Linked DNA regions of Homo sapiens: region 1 is linked to region 2. Evidence: fine-mapped expression QTL. A gene starts in region 2. The other region holds a variant in brackets. All regions are shown on one strand. Distances are from middle to middle.

Region 1 (8,556 bases), 160 kb before region 2:
GTTTAAATTGTATGTACTGAAGATAAGCAAAAGATAGTAGTTATTTTCCTAAATGAAATAACTTTCTTCTCTTCCCCCTCCCCATCCCCAAATTCTTTTCTGATGTTACTGGCATTTGGGTCAAGGTTTTATTAAAAGCTGCATTTTATAACACTGGCACACACAAAAAAAGTAGTTTAAAGCTTGTTTGCACAGTTATTTTTTTCCATTAGAAATGGAATTCATTGCCTTAGGTCCTTTTAAATAGTGTATTATTATCATTGGGCTAGTTCTATGCTTGAAAACCAGTTTATTTATAATCTGTTATAAGTGCTATATTCTGTTTGCAGTCAGGAAATGCAGAATTCAAAGTGATATCCTAGCTTGTAAGCAAACTGAGATGTACTATCCCTTTTCTATTAAAAAAAAAAAGTGTCAATAAACCAACTCTATTACAGTGGGGTTTAATATTACACTTTCCTGTGTGTTTTATCTAATTATTTTGGTTGTTAATATGGTGATAATTGAAAATCAAGGTAAATTTTAAATATTAAGAATTCTGATTTATTGAGATTGAATTATGCCACCATGTTTATGAAAAATGAAGGTGGCACCACGGTGAGACCTCATGAGAAATAGTTACTCAGCTGTAACAATTTTGATTTATTCTGTTTCCTGTGACCTCCTTCCCTCTTGTCTTGAACCATAGCAAAAAGATACTGCATCCCTCATTACTGTAATGCTGAGGTTACTGAAGTTACATAAAACACATCTCAGTCCCTGTTTCTTGGAAAGGTATCTATTAAGTCCTGCTAGCTAACTGACAAAATGAAGCAAGTAGAAGCAAAAAGTGTGTTTCACATTTTGCACACAAATGCAGAATTTGTATAACCACATGACTTCATAGTTGTGATCTCAAAAAAGAAGGAATTTCTCCATTTTTTCTTCCATTTAATGTAAGAATACTTTAAATCTCTAGGCTTCTGAAGTGTTAGAGGTAAAGACATAGTAGTAATGTTTTATCCATTTAATGTATTTATTTTTTCGTATATACTCCTAGGTGACCTACTTTTTCACTTCAGTGACATAACAGTAAAGAAAAATCATTCATTAGGAAAAGGAAAAGTGGTCTCAACCTAACAAAGAAATCAGAAATGTTTCTTATTATTTTATGTTGAGCTGCATATTGGACTCTAACATTTTTCTACATGCAAAACACAGTGTCATGAAGCTTCTTCATAATTGCAATATAGAGGAATTTAGTATCTCTTAAGTACTTTGTAAAGATTTGACATTCAACTATAGTATCCATATGTTGGTTAAATTTCCTTATGAGCCCCATGATGGAAAGACTTAAAGATGAATTTGAGAAAAATTGAAAGAAATTAGAGTATCAAGTTGTGTTAAATTGTTACATGTATCTTGCTTAAATTTCTGTTTATTAATTTATATCCACCCAATTACATAAAGCAAATTTGAAGGAAACAACTGAAGTTGTGAAATATTATCTGTGATAATTGCTTTTTTTATTCTTGTGTTTTCTACTTAAACATGATGTCTATGTCATCAAGTATTATAGTCAGACTTTTTTCTCAATTGTTAAAATTGGTAAATGAACTTTTTTAAAATAAAAAAAGCTTCTCCAACTTTACAATGGAAATAGATCAATGAACCTGATAAATCAATGTTAACATTACCAGTAACAAGAAAAATTGATACAATGGGCCTTCAAATATGATTCACTGAAAAAGACACAAATGCATTTCTGTAGTATTGTTCCTGAATATCCAATATCTGATACTAATCTGAAGGAAACACCAAACTCCAAATAAGGCACATTTCATAAAATAACAGGCCTGTAACTCTTGAAAAATGTTAAGGACCTGAAAGATAAATTAATTCTGTAAACAATTCCAGATTAAACAATACTAAAAAGACATGAAATCTAAATGTCACTTGATTGCGCAATCATTCCTGAAACAGGAAAAAAATCATCTTTTACTTACTACAAAAGACATTAATGGGACAACTGGCAACATTTGAATGTCTAGAGCATTACAAATACAACTTTCTGCAATGATGGTAGTGTTCTATATCTATGCTCTCCAATACAATAACCACTGGACTGCTGAGTGCCTGAAATGAGAAACTGAATTTCTAATGTATTTAATTTATTTAAATAGCCACATATGGCTAGTGGCCACCAGACTGAACAGCACAGGCTTATATACTAGACAATAGTACTATATCAATGTTAATTTCCTGATTTGATGACTGTATTAAGATTACACGAGAGAATATCCTTATTTTTAGGGAAAAAACACTGAACTGTTTAGAGGTTAAGGAGCATCATGTGTACAACTTAAAATCTTCAAAATGTTTCAGAGAAAAGAAAGAATGGTAAAGCAATGTGGTAAAACGTTAATATTTTGAGAATCTGGGTGAAGTGTATACAGAATTCTTCATACTATTTTTGTAAGTCTACCATTATCGCACATTAAAAGTTAAAAAGAAAAGAATAGCTGCATAAAATCAATATTATTCTCACTAAAACTTATTTGTACACTATTTTTCACTTTGTTCTTGAAATGTGAATGTTCAACTGTTAATTCGATTTCATTTTTAAAAAAACTCCTCTATACTCTATAAACTATTCACTCTCTGACCAAAAGTGTATAATATATTAAGCTATTCTAAACTTTTATAGTTAGCAGAAAAGAAAGAGCATAGAACTGAGATTTCAGCCTGAGTACTGAATATTTAAAGTAGCAAAGGTATTGCAAAATTAAGTTCATTGCTGGGCATGGGAACTCATGCCTGTAATCCCAGTACTTTGGGAGGCTGAGGTGGGAGGATCACTTGAGGTCAGGAGTTCAAGACCAGCCTGGGCAACAGAGAGACAGGGATCTGTCTCTACAAAAAATAAAAATAAAAAAAATTAACCAGGCATGGTGGTGTGCATCTATAGCCCTAGCTACTTGGGAGGTTGAGGTAGGAGGATCACTTGAATCCAGGAGTTTGAGGCTGCAGTGAGCTATGATCACACCACTGGACTCCAGCCTGGGCAACAAAGTAAGATCCTTGCTCTTAGAAAAACAATTAATTAGGCCGGGCGCAGTGGCTCATGCCTATAATCCCAGCAATTTCGGAGGCCAAGACGGGCGCATCATGAGGTCAGGAAATCGAGACCATCCTGGCTAACACAGTGAAACCCCGTCTCTACTAAAAAATATACAAAAAATTAGCCGGGCATGGTGGCGGGCGCCTGTAGCCCCAGCTACTCAGGAGGCTGAGGCAGGAGAATGGCGTGAACCTGGGAGGCAGAGCTTGCAGTGAGCC[G/T]AGATCGCGCCACTGCACTCCAGCCTGGGCGACAGAATCCGTCTCAAAAAAAAAAAAAAAAAAAGGCCGGGCGCGGTGGCTCACGCCTGTAGTCCCAGCACTTTGGGAGGCCGAGGCGGGCGGATCACGACGTCAGCAGATCGAGACCACCCTGGCTAACACAGTGAAACCCCGTCTCTACTAAAAACCCAAAAAATTAGCGGGGCATGGTAGTGGGCGCTTGTAGTCCCGGAAGGCTGAGGCAGGAGAATGGCGTGAACCCAGGAGGCGGAGTTTGCAGTGAGCCTAGATCGCGCCACTGCACTCCAGCCTGGGTGACAGAGTGAGACTCCGTCTCAAAAAAACAAAAAACAAAACAAAACAAAAAAAGTGTAAAAATCATTGCGCATCTTTCTATCTGTGCAGAGATGGAACATATTGTGTCATTTCCACAGAGTGAAATGGAAAGCTCCATAAACAGTGAGATTTAGTGGGTTCATCCTTGGAAAATAGTCAAGAAAAAATGCCTATATCTCTTGCTTATATGTGATCAACCGAATATCAATGATAATGCAAAAGTTGAACAGAAAACTTAGAAACTAAAGAAAAAGTATCTAGATTAATTTCAAATCAGATTTCTTTTTCACAGTCTACTCAATCCAGTATAATTAAGTTTCCATCATTACTTCATGAGACTATCCTCAGAAAGATCTATAAATGTACTTTTCACTAAATCCAATGAATACTTTTTAGTCCTTAATCTCTTGATAACATTTGATAATACAAACACCTTCCTTCATGAAATGGTCTTTTCTTCTGGCTTTGATAATGTATATTTTCTTGATTTTTTCTCTCTCTACTCTGCTTCTAGTATCCTTGCATGCCCTCTTCCTTTAGTCATCTCTTTACTGACATTTCTCAAAATTCTGTCCTAGACCATAATCTCTTCTCATCTTATACCCTAACCTTGGGTTAGGGCGTCTCATCTCACATTCCTGGCTTCGGAAAACATGTATTGCACATATGAAAGTGAACCCAAAGATCATCCTATCCTCAACTGTTCCTGAGATTCATACCCACAAATGAACCTATGGACATGTCCAGTTGGATGTCTTTCAGGAACATCTAACTCAACATGTCAAAAACTAAACTTATTATCTCTAGCCCCTATGGTTACTGCCTCCCTGAAAACTGCTCTTCCTCTTTTCATAAATGTCACTATCACTTGTATAAGACAAAAACCTGGGAATTATCTTTTATTTCTCATTCATCATTACCTCCATCTAAGGAACTATTAAGTCTAGTATATTCTATTACTTGAGTAGATTATTATTATTTGCATAAGTTATATTTTATAAAGTTGCTATGAATACTGAATTAGTGAACACTAAACCACCGAGGATTACATTCCTGTGAGCCTCTGGTCACAGATTTTCAGCAATCAGTCAACACACAACATTGTTAGATGTTCCTAAAAGACATCCAGTTGGACATGTTCATAGGTCTGTTTGTGGGTATGAATGAATCTCAGGAACAGTTTAGGATAGGATAATCTTTGGGTTCACTTTCATATGTGCAATACGTGGTTTCTGAAGCCAGAAATGTGAGGCGAAACCCCCTCCCTCAAGGTTAAATGAGTATAATGAGAAGAGATTATTGTCTAGGACAGAAAGTGTGTTTCTGTTTAAACACACCTTTCATTCACTAACATTGAGCTCATGGTTAACAGCAGTATAACTCATACCATAATGAAGCTTATTTTTATTTATTTATTTATTTATTTATTTTTTCCCCTGGTTTAATAAGGACTTGTTTATTTTGAGGAAAAAAGGTCCCAAACATCAGGCTGTTCACAAAAATAACCCACAGTATCAACTTTAGAAAACAAATCTTAAGACTATAACACTAATTATTTTTCTAGAGGATGCATTTGACATGCCAACTCTCATTCACAAAAATACATTGTTACATTTGTGTTGAACTGCCCCACACAGCACACTAATGTGGGGGTGTAACACACATACTTCTAACTCAAAGCTGCTTTCAAGAGCTACTCAACTAAATGAGATTGCCTTTGCAGTTAGGGAAGCAACTACTGAACTTATGTATGAATGAAAAGAACTGTACTCCCTGCATAACAAGAGATTATTTTGGAGACAGTTGATAAAAACCATACATCATTTTTATTGTTAAGTCATAAAGAGGTATCAAAATTAAAAGCAAAAATTACAGGGTAAGACTTAACAAAACTACTAGGAGCGTCAAAGGAAGTGAAAATGGGACTAGGCGCGGGGCAATATGAATTAATTAATGAACATGGGAAGGACAAGGATGGGGAAAACAGTGAGCATGTGCTGAAGATACTAGGGGAGAGGATCTGGTGAAAAATTTGATCTTAGACAAGCGCCTAGGTAAAGAAATAATGGGATAAGATTTCTAAACCCCACTATGTGCTTAAGAGTCATCCTCGCCATTGGCGCTGTCTCTGTCATCCTCTCCTTCCTCAGCCTCTTTTTCATCATCCTTGATCAACTCCAGCTGGTCATCCCCCCATCTTCATTATCATCATCATCCAGTAGGTCCCCCTCCTCAGCAGAGTCATCTGCACCCCCCTCAGACTCCATCTTCACATTAGTCTCATCTTTCTTCACGGAGCTGCTGCTCTGCTCCTCTTCTGACTTAACATTGTTCATCTCTACTGCTTGTTTGCTCTGTTCCTTTTCAATTTTTTCCAGGTTTTCCAGGAAAGAATCCACTTTTTGTTTTATCTGGGTCAGCTCCCTCTTAATGGCCTGAAGGTCATCTCCTTTCAACTTTCCAGACTTGGAAGATCCCCGCTGTCCACTCTTAGAATTGAAGCCACTTATGCCCCTTTGTGAAGTGTTTCCTGATACACGCTGACGTTTCGAGGGCACTACAGCCCGAGCAATAGGAGGAGGAGGAGGTACACGTGCTGGGTAACTGTACATCCTATCATAATAGTCCCGTTGAAAGTCACAATCCAAGTCAAAAGAGGAGCCGTACATCTCCGCTGCAGATCGTTTCACACCTGCTTTTCCTCGGTTCACTTTTGGCTCTGCAGCCAGGTTAATATCTAAAACCTGGCCAGCAATCATTCTGCCATCCTCTCCTGCTACAGCAGCCCGGGCATTTCTCTCATTAACATACTGAAAGAAGGCAAAGCCCTTATGAACAGAGCAGCCCACAATTTTGCCATACTTCGAAAAGATTGCCTCCACATCAGATTTCTTGACCACAAGAGTGTTGAGATTCCCAATGAATACACGGGAGTTCATGGAACGAGGATCTGTCTTGTTGGTAACGTTGCTGGCCATTGTGTTTGATGGTAAGGTTTCTCACAAAGCCGAAAACAAGAAGGGGAGGGAGAAGAGATTCGATTCTGAGTCTCCTACTCCCGGGTTCTGCGTAGAGAAGCCGACTGCTGCTGGAGGTCGGCAACGCGGCCGCAACCGCTCAGTCTTCGTCTCTTCACAAAATGGCCTATTTATTTATTTTTTTAGAGATGGAGTCTCACTCTGTCGCCCAGGCTGGAGTGCAGTGGTGCGATCTTGGCTCACTGCAACCTCCGCCTCCCATGTTCTAGCAATTCTCCTGCCTCAGCCTCCTGAGTAGCTGGGACTATAGGCGTACACTGCCATACCCGGCTAATTTTTTGTATTTTTAGTAGAGACAAGGTTTCAACGTGTTGTCCAGGCTGGTCTTGAACTCCTGAGCTCAGGCAATCCATCCGCCTCAGCCTCCCAAAGTGCTAAGACTACAGGCATGAGCCACCGCACCCAGTAGAAGCTTATCTTAACAAACATACTTGCCCCATAAAGTACATCATGGCCTTCTTGCACTGAGGAACACTATATAGACAGTACTTTAAAAATATGGTTAGGGCCAGGTTAAACTTTAAAATTACCAATAAAAAGTGCAGATATGAGAAAAACATAGCAATAAGTAATAGGTAAAAAAGATATTTGTTTACAGTATAAGAACTAAAAGAAGGCAGGATGTTGACTTGTTCAACCTCAGCTGGGAACATGTGCATTGGACAACACAAATTTTTCTGCTGCTCTGTGTATGTCCACAAATGACTGTGAAAGTACAGCAAGTACTGATTTGGGGGTTACAAGCAAATTTTTGTGAGTAGGCATAATTGCAAATACAGAATTCACCAGCAGGGATCAACTGTATCTGCTGAATCTACCTACTTCTCTCTATACCCATGTCTAGTTTAGACAACTCATATTGGTTATGGATTAAGCTGATAGCTTTCGAACTGGTCTCCTTGTTTCTGGCTCTCCTTTGATGTATTCTGCAAGCAGTAGCCAGAATTGTTTTTCTTCTAAAATCTGATATAATTCCTGTTTAAAATGTTTCAATGACCAGCCACAGCAAAAGCCAACACTTTAACAAAAGTTACAATGATATGATCCTTGTCTTTTCAGTCTCCTTTCTTGCTATTACCCTTTTATCTAGTGAGCTTCAGCCAAACAGAACTTCTTTAAGGTTTCTCTTATTATTGGGCTTTTGTATATGCTATTTCTTCTGCCAATTTCATTGTTCCCTCTTCACCTGGCTAGCTCACACTAATCCTTCACATTTCTACTTTATTGTTACCTCTTCCAGAACCTTTCTGCTATGTGCTCATCCAGCACCCTATACTTCCCCTATCTTTCTTTATACTTACCAATTCATTTTAAATTCTCTATTTAATGAATTGCTAGTTCCATGAGGACAGAGACAACTATCACCCTTTCCCCAGAGCCTAACCCAGTCAGTACTTTGCATATCCAGGTGTTCATAATATCTGTTTAATGTCAGGTGAACAAATTAATAGTTCTTCATTATGTGTGAGAAGGTGATATGTCTGCACACCTTCCTGACTGCCAGCTGATCATACTACACAAATTCTGATGATCTTACTCTTTTACTCAAACTAATTCTAGGTCTACTCTGTTCTCTGTTCTACATTGTGAAGTACTCCCTCTCTATTGAAACATTCCCATTAGCACATACACATGCTATTTATTGCCCATATTAAAAATAGGAAGGATGAATGGAATCTATCCATAATTCTCTACCTTTCTTCACTATCATCCATTTTTCTGCTCCTTTAAAAAAATCTTCTAAGGGATACCTATAGTTTATGCCTTTAATCCCTCACCTCCTAATCTCTACAAATCACCATATTGGGGATCTTCATCACTTCAATGAAATTATTTTTGACAAATTCACCAATAACTTCATGTT
Region 2 (8,556 bases):
ACTCAGCCTTAAAAAGGAGGAAACTTCTGATATATATTACATCTTGGATGAATCTTGAAGACTTTATGATAGGTGAAATAAGTCAGTCACAAAATGACAAATACTGTGTTACCCCACTTTTATGAACTCCTAGAATAATCAAATTTAAAGTGGAATGGTGGTTGCCAAGGGCTGGAAGGCAGAAGGAATGGGAGCTTATTGGTTCTTGTTTTTGTTTTGTTTTTTTTTTTTTGAGACGGGAGTCTCCTTCTGTTGCCTAGGCTGGAGTGCAGTGGTGCAATCCCAGCTCACTGCAACGTCTGCCTCCCAGGTTCAAGTGATTCTCATGCCTCAGCCTCCCACGTAGCTGGGATTACAGGCATTCATCACCACAACCAGCTAATTTTTGTATTCTTAGTAGAGATGGCCATCATGTTGGCCAGGCTGGTCTCGAACTCCTGACTCCAGGTAATCCGCCCACCTCAGCCTCCCAAAGTGCTGGGATTACAGGCGCGAGCCACTGTGCCCGGCTGGGAGCTTATTGTTTAATGGGTACAGAATTTCAGTTTGAGAAGATGAAAAGGTTCTGGAGCTAGATGGTAGTCATAGTTGCATAGCAATGTGAATGTACTTAGTTCCTTTGAACTTAAAAATGGTCAAAATGGTAAATTGTTATGTAAATTCTACCACAATAAAGTTCAGAAAAGTTAATTTGTAAAATAAGCATAATGGTTCAGCAAACAAAACCCAAAATATCTTCCAAAGACCTGATTGACAGTATTACCACTAATGAAAGAACGTTCCACATCAAGAGATACTGGTCAGCAAAGAAAATTTAAGAGGAGAAAGGATGGGCTGGGCGTGGTGGCTCACGCCTGTAATCCCAGCACTTTGGGAGGCCGAGGCAGGTGGATCACGAGGTCAAGAGATGGAGACCATCCTGGCCAACATGGTGAAACCCCGTCTCTACTAAAAATACAAAAATTAGCTGGGCGTGGTGGCGTGCACCTGTAGTCCCAGCTACTCAGGAGGCTGGGGCAGGAGAATCGCTTGAACCCGGGAGGCAGAGGTTGTAGTGAGCCAACCTCACACCAATTGCAATCCAGACGTCGTCTCAAAAAAAAAAAAAAAAAAAAAATGGAGAAAGTAAAATGGCAATGTATTTTTAGCACTAGCCAAGTCAAAGAATGTAAGACAATGTGACTCAAGTGGAAAGGGCTGCATCAGGCTTGAAATACTAGCCATTAAAAGCACCACACACATTTCTATTGTTTCTGTTCTGTATTTACCAAGCAATCTTCTGATTATAATTTGGATTTAGCCTTCATTGTAATTTGGTCAATACAAGGAAGATAATGACCAGCAAACTCAACTATCCTAGCTTCCCCATAATTGTGTTTCTCATAAATAATACATTAGTATTAATGGCTTTTACACAGCATTTTATTAGCAGTTTGTGGTGGGTAACTCAGTACTCCAGAGTCCAGTCACTTCCAGACCTGATAAACCAATTTCAAGCCTATAAAAGAATCAGATATTGAAACTCAAGTAATCACACTATGGGCCTGCCAGGCTGGCATACATCTGTGGCACGCCAATGTGGCTTTTCCCAAGCAATACCCCTCTCTGAATGCAGTTTCCATTCACATTTCCATAATTCTGTACTGCATTTTGTCTTCTGCCTGTAGACTCAGATTCTTGAGAACAGAGAATGGACCTTATCTGTATCCTTATACTAATAAAGTTCCTAGCATAAAGGAAATAACCCAATAAATATGTAACAAATGAAAATAAAACCTAACCTAGTAGGACATAATTAGGAAATAAATATTGAAAAATAGGATTTGGGCCAGGCGTGGTGGCTCATGCCTGTAATCCCAGCACTTTGGGAAGCTGAGGCAGGTGGATCACGAGGTCAGGAGTTCAAAACCAGCCTGGCCAACATAGTGAAATGTCATCTCTACTAAAAATACAAAAATTAACTGGGAATGGTGGCAGGCACCTGTAGTCCCAGCTACTCGGAAGGCTGAGGCAGGAGAATCGCTTGAACCCCGGAGGTGGAGGTTGTAGTGAGCTGAGATGGCACCACTGCACTCCAGCCTGGCAACAGAGTGAGACTCCATCTAAAAAAAAAAAGAAAGATTCTTATATGTTTTAATATATAATATGTATTAATAATAAAATTTTCCTCTGAAGGCTACAAATGGAAAGCTAGACACACAATATCTGAGACCAAATAAGCATATCTAGATTCAGCTGGAACTCTCGATTTATGTTGAACTTACATAGGCCATATTTTTTGAGAATGCCCATGAGTGGCATTCTAACTATCTGCATAAAAGTACAGACAGGCCTCAGAGAGCATACATGCCTTTCCCCCAATAACCCTCTCCTATGTTACAATAGAGAACATAAAAAATGTATATCTTTGCTAAATACATGGGACTTGTATAAGTGCCACTTTACATATATTCGGTCAAGGGAAAGATAAAATTCCATACTAATGTGCCCTAGAGTTCTCCTGTTTCACATAATAACAGCATTCGGACTCAACACTGGCCAAGAGTGCCTAGACGAGGAATCTACCAATGATAGCACACACAATAGGATCTTGCTTGTCTTGACAGCACAGAAGAGCATTGGGATATACTTGCTGAACATAATTGGAATTGTAAGAAAAATAATACCTGATGTGAAAGGTTTTATGTTCAAACTGGATTCCAGTGTATAACAGAAATAAGCTCTGACCTCTCTAACCGTATGACTAATTTTTCTTAACTTTTAGGTTTTAATTTTTCTTTTTTCCCTTGTTTAGGCCAACAGTGCACCCTAGAGAAAATGTGAGTTATTTTCTCTTCTAGCAGTTAAGAAAACAGACTCCAGTGCCAGATGTCCTGACTTCTAATCCTAGCTTTGCTTTTCCTAGTTGTGTGACCTCCAAAGCACCCAAACTCTGTGGCCCAGTTGCCTGTAAAATGAGGACAGAAACTATTTCATGGGATTTTGAAAGAAATTAATCTACAGCAGGTGCCTGGTACATAGTGCCACTTTATCATTATTGTTACACATAAATGAAATTTTTGAAAAACATAAGTTCCAAATAAAAAACCTCAACCATATTCTGGTAATTATTTACTTATTTATCTGTATCCACCTCTAGACTGTACTCTGTGGCTTCCCAACATGTTGTTATGGGATTTACTCATCTTTTATACCCAGAGCTTCACAACGTGCAAAGTGCAGGTATATATGCCAGCCCTGTACAACAGTGGATTCTAAGGTCCTTGCTTACTAAAATCTTAAATACCAGCAGGGGAAAAGCCTGACTCTTGGAATAAATCTGTCCAATGTTCAAAACAAAGTTCACAAACCAATAAAAGAAAAAAAAAAAAAAAAGCAGGTGCAAGACTTTGAAAACATACCATGCTGAATTTCATGTACATAGTAAGGAAGGACAACATAATGCATTATGAAAATAGGATGGTTTAAGGCAACTGAATATTTACCACAGCCTTTTTTTTTTTTTTTTTTTTTTTTTTGAGACAGAGTCTCGCTCTGTAGCTCAGGCTGGAGTGCAGTGGCGCGATCTCGGCTCACTGCTACCTCCGCCTCCCGGGTCCCAGTTCAAGCAGTTCTCCTGCCTCAGTCTCCCGATTTTTTTTTTTTTTAATTGTAAAAATAAGCCAGCCCCTTTCTTCCTAGTGAAGTGGGAGAAACGGTTTACACTGTCCGATGAGAAACACTTCCGTTCTTTGGTAACCCTGCTAGGGGGCGCCGCTAGATTCCATCCTATTTCTCCGATGAAAGTATCAGGTACCTCACCCCTAAGTTTAGATTTGATGATAGTTCCCTTAAAAATGAATGACGAATAATCTACCCCATCCTTTTCTCACAGTAGCAACCAAATTCCAGCCAAGGGCAAAAAAAAAATTTCTTTTTAATGTAGCTTAGTGTTTGGAACTTGATGTTGTGTAGTCAGACAAACCTGTATTCGGCCTCCGCTGGATCAGTCACTAGCTGTGTAATTTTACAGAACTCTCATCACCTGCAAATCTGGGGGAAATGCAGGTGCGCACAGAGAGCGTTTTGGGCAAAGACGGCCTTTAAGCTTTTCTTCACTAAGCATGCCGCTCGCTAGCGGAACAGCAGCCAGCTCTGGACGGGACCTTGCACAGTTCCGATGACATCACTTCCGGGCGCCAGGTTCGGGCTTTCTCCTGCAGCGATAAGGGCAGTCGACAGTCTTTAGTAGGGAAAGGAGACAAGTGCTAGCTACTGCCGCCCAAGTGGAAGGTGGGTGAAATTGCTCACTCTTCACCCCACTGACGCTTTTGCGCACCTGGAAAAGCGGTTCCAGTTTGCGCCCGTCGCCGCCTTACAGCCGACAGGAGACCAGCGCTACCCAAGTCACGTGGGTTCAGCCTGCAGCTTTCTTGGCCCGAAAGGGTAGTGCTTCGTACAATCCTCCTTGTCCAGATTTTGTTAATGCAAATCTAATTCCTCTAGGTTGTGTCTGTCTGGGCTGCACTGCCCGCAACTGCCTTCTGCAAATAGGTCGCTCATCTCTAATCCCTGGGATGCCGTGTCCCTTTAGTGTGGTGGAGAAAGGCCCTGCTTTAACACCCAGAAAGTTTTAGAACGGATGATCTGGGGGCATAAAATTAGGTGCTTCGCAGTGTGAAAATACTAGTGTGCTTTAGTGATGGGCTGCTATTATTTTGGGGGAAAAGGATTTGGGAAGATCCTTGTTATGACAAAACCTGTAGCAAAAAGTGGAGATTTAATTCCAAAGATTGCAATTAAGGATAAAATAGGTGTTAGGTTGCAGTTGGCGTGTGTGTGTTTATGTTAACTCTTGTTTTTGAACCAAATGATCCAGTTTTATTTTGAAAGATGTTTTTAGGAGATGGAATACATTAACAGTATTTTTATCTGTTCCATCTGCCTTTGTTGTTTGATTCTTTTTAGAAAATCCACATTTTGTCTTAATTTTAGCTGTCAAAAAATAAATAGCACTTTTCAGAGGACTCTATCAATTATTGTACTTTATATTAGCTGTCTTAATAGTAAGTCTTTTGGTAGGAACAGCATGCAAGTAATAATAATACTAAAAAATTTTATATCTGACCCCTGTTTTCCCCCTTGGAGAACATTATATTCATTCATAATATTATTTATATTCCCATGTTGCTATAGCCTTTACAAACTTTTGGTGACTTTTACAAACTTTCCTGTAATTCTGTAAAACTATATATTGAAAAATAAGCTGGCTAATGTCAGTTGCAAATAATAAGTTGTTTCTGTAATTCTTTTTCAGGAATTATCTATAGAGTAAGTATGCTAATCTTGACTAAGACTGCAGGAGTTTTTTTTAAACCATCAAAAAGGAAAGTTTATGAATTTTTAAGAAGTTTTAATTTTCATCCTGGAACACTATTTCTTCATAAAATAGTATTGGGAATTGAAACTAGTTGTGATGATACAGCAGCTGCTGTGGTGGATGAAACTGGAAATGTGTTGGGAGAAGCAATACATTCCCAAACTGAAGTTCATTTAAAGTAAGTAGACATTATCTTAGTCATTTCCACTTTTTTGGAAAAAGTAAAATCATTCTTTTGTATTTGTCATATATAAAAGTTTTCAGGAGCTACTGTCTTATTCCTTTTTGCAAACACTTTTAATAACTGCTATAGAAAACCTCAAACACTTCATCCTGGCTTTTAAGGGTCTTCACAATAAGGTCCCAACCTTAACTAATCCTGTTGCCAAAAGAAACTGAGCTCATTCCCAGCTTCCGTATTTATTGATTTTCCTTCAGTAATGCATTCCTTCTTTTCTCCACTTCTATGTTTCATGGTCTCAGCTGAAGTCCTAGGAAAACTGTTAGTCATTGAAAAAAAAAATCCTATTCATATTTATACATATAACTTGTATTAGTACTTAAATAATAATACACTGTTGTATTAAAGCATAGAATGGTGCAAGGATTATAAACTGTGATGTTTATAGAGGACTACCAGGCAGGTTACCTAAATAAATGGACAAGATAAAAAGTGGAAAATGTCTGGAGGAGGTCACTACTCAGCTCTAGCCAGTTGTCATGTGGGAATGCAGGACCTGTGTTATTAGATTATTATAATTTTCAAGGGAAAATGGAAATCCAGATTTTTTTTTTCTTTTTTTTTGGTGAGACAGAGTCTCACTCTGTCACCAGGCTGGAGTGCAGTGGCATGATCTCGGCTCACTGCAATCTCCGCCTCTCGAGTTCAAACGATTCCCCTGTCTCAGCCTCCCAAGTAGCTGGGATTACAGGCACGTGCCACCACGCCCAGCTGATTTTTTGCATTTTAGTAGAGACGGGGTTTCACCATGTTGGCCAGGATGGTCTCAATCTCCTGACCTCTTGATCCACCTACCTCGGCCTCCCAAAGTGCAGGGATTACAGGCGTGAGACACCGCGCCGGGCTGGAAATCCAGATTGTTAATGTATTTGCAGATTTTTTACATTAGTAGCTAATTTAGAATATATTAAAATACTCTTGGGAGGTGGGGGGCGCCCCCGCCCAGCAGCCGCCCCGTCTGGGAGGTGGGGGCGCCTCTGCCCGGCAGCCGCCCCGTCTTAGGGGTGGGGGCCCCTCCGCCTGGCCGCCACCTCTGGGAAGTGAGGAGCCCCTCTGCCCGGCTGCCACCCCGTCTGGGAGGTGTACCCAACAGTTCATTGAGAACGGGCCATGATGACAATGGCGGTTTTGTCGAATAGAAAAGGGGGAAATGTGGGGAAAAGAAAGAGAGATCAGATTGTTAATATGTCTGTGTAGAAAGAAGTAGACATAGGAGACTCCATTTTGTTCTATACTAAGAAAAATCCTTCTGCCTTGGGATGCTGTTGATCTATAACCTTACCCCCAACCCCGTGCTCTCTGAAACATGTGCTGTGTCAACTCAGGGTTAAATGGATTAAGGGCGGTGCAAGATGTGCTTTGTTAGACAGATGCTTGAAGGCAGCATACTCGTTAAGAGTCATCACCACTCCCTAATCTCAAGTACCCAGGGACATAAACACTGCAGAAGGCCGCAGAGTCCTCTGCCTAGGAAAACCAGAGACCTTTGTTCACATGTTTATCTGCTGACCTTCTCTCCACTATTGTCCTATGGCCCTGCCAAATCCCCCTCTCCGAGAAACACCCAAGAATGATCAATAAATACTAAAAAAATAAATAAATAAATAAATAAGAATAAAATACTCTACAGATGAGTATACCTTTAAGCTATCAATTTACAACATCTGAATAGTGAAAAAGCCTGGTATTTTGGAATCACAGTCCTGTATTTGAATCCTGAATTAAGCACTTGGTATTGGCTCTGTAACTGTAGGCAAGTTCCATATCCTCTCTGATTCTGTTTTCACATCAGTAAAATAGGAAAATTGGCTGGGCGCTGTGGCTCACGCCTGTAATCGCATCACTTTGGGAGGCCGAGGCAAGTGGACCATGAGGTCAGGAGATTGAGACCATCCTGGCTAACATGGTGAAACCCCATCTCTACTAAAAATACAAAAAAAATTAGCCAGGCGTGGTGGCGGACGCCTGTAGTCGCAGCTACTTGGGAGGCTGAGGCAGGAGAATGGCGTGAACCCGGGAGGCGGAGCTTGCAGTGAGCAGAGATCGCGCCATTGGACTCCAGCCCGGGCGACAGAGTGAGAGTCTGTCTCAAAAAAAAAAAAAGGAAAATTAACATCTGCCTCATAGAATTACGGGAGGGTGGCATTAGAAATAATGTATGTAAAGAGGCAGATTGAGCCTCAAACAATAACTATGTGAAAGGGACTGTGTTGGATATTAGTAAGGCACTGTGAAGTACTGCAAAGTCCTTGGTTTAAGGAAGCTTAACTTGATTATGGAGACATGATGTCTAGACCTACAAGGAGAATTAATAGTGCAAGGCAGCATAGCATAAGGAAAAACAAGTGGTGCAGACAGTAACTATTATTACCGTGCCTCAGCTTCACAGTCCTTTCAGTTTTTCCTGAGTGCACTGAACTTTTGAACATGTAAAAGTTAATGGCACAGAAAGGACTACCCTGACCACTTTATCTAAATTAGGTACTCCCATCCTATTTATTCTGTATCATCATACCCTGCATATTTTCTTTGTAATACTTTCACAATTTATACATTTGCTTGTGTATGTATAATCTCTCTCAGTAGAGTCTAAGTGCCAAGGTGACAGGGGCCATGTCTATATTAATCACTATGCTATGCCTAGTGCCTAACACAATGTTTGACACATCACAGGTGTTCAGTGGCCTTTCGTTAGGCCTTCAGTGAATGGAGATGGAAAGAATATTATAACCTGTGTTAGTTCATTCTTGCACTGCTATAACGAAATACCTGAGACTGGGTAATTTATAAAGAAAAGAGGTTTAATTGGTTCGTGTTTCCACAGGCTGTGTAGGAAGCGTGGCAGCATCTGCTTCTGGGGAGGCCCAGGGAGCTTTTACTCATGGCGGAAGGCAAATTGGGAGTAGGCGTCTTACATGGCAGGAGCAGGACCGAGAGAGGGGGGGTGAGGTGCTAC

Evidence for each region. PIP is the estimated chance that this variant, and not a neighbour inherited with it, causes the effect.
Region 1: its variant is fine-mapped to the expression of OSGEPL1 in whole blood (INTERVAL, PIP above 0.99).

Annotation. Positions count from the first base shown.
Region 1 is chr2:189,921,412-189,929,967 of GRCh38, reverse strand. It overlaps a transcript of AKAP19 not described here, the pseudogene HNRNPCP2 and the pseudogene RNF11P1. Among named protein-coding and RNA genes, the nearest start is that of MSTN, 140 kb to the left of the region's middle. The variant G/T (reference allele first, on the strand shown) is at 3,319.
Region 2 is chr2:189,758,401-189,766,956 of GRCh38, reverse strand. It overlaps OSGEPL1 (O-sialoglycoprotein endopeptidase like 1), which reads left to right and starts at 4,165. Exons shown (of 9, transcript NM_022353.3): 1 at 4,165-4,272; 2 at 5,297-5,537. The coding sequence starts at 5,317. OSGEPL1-AS1 (OSGEPL1 antisense RNA 1) reads right to left here and starts at 4,177. Exons shown (of 2, transcript NR_102429.1): 1 at 3,965-4,177; 2 at 1,401-2,102. It also overlaps a transcript of ANKAR not described here and a transcript of ORMDL1 not described here. RefSeq lists enhancers at 3,490-4,236, 4,523-4,682.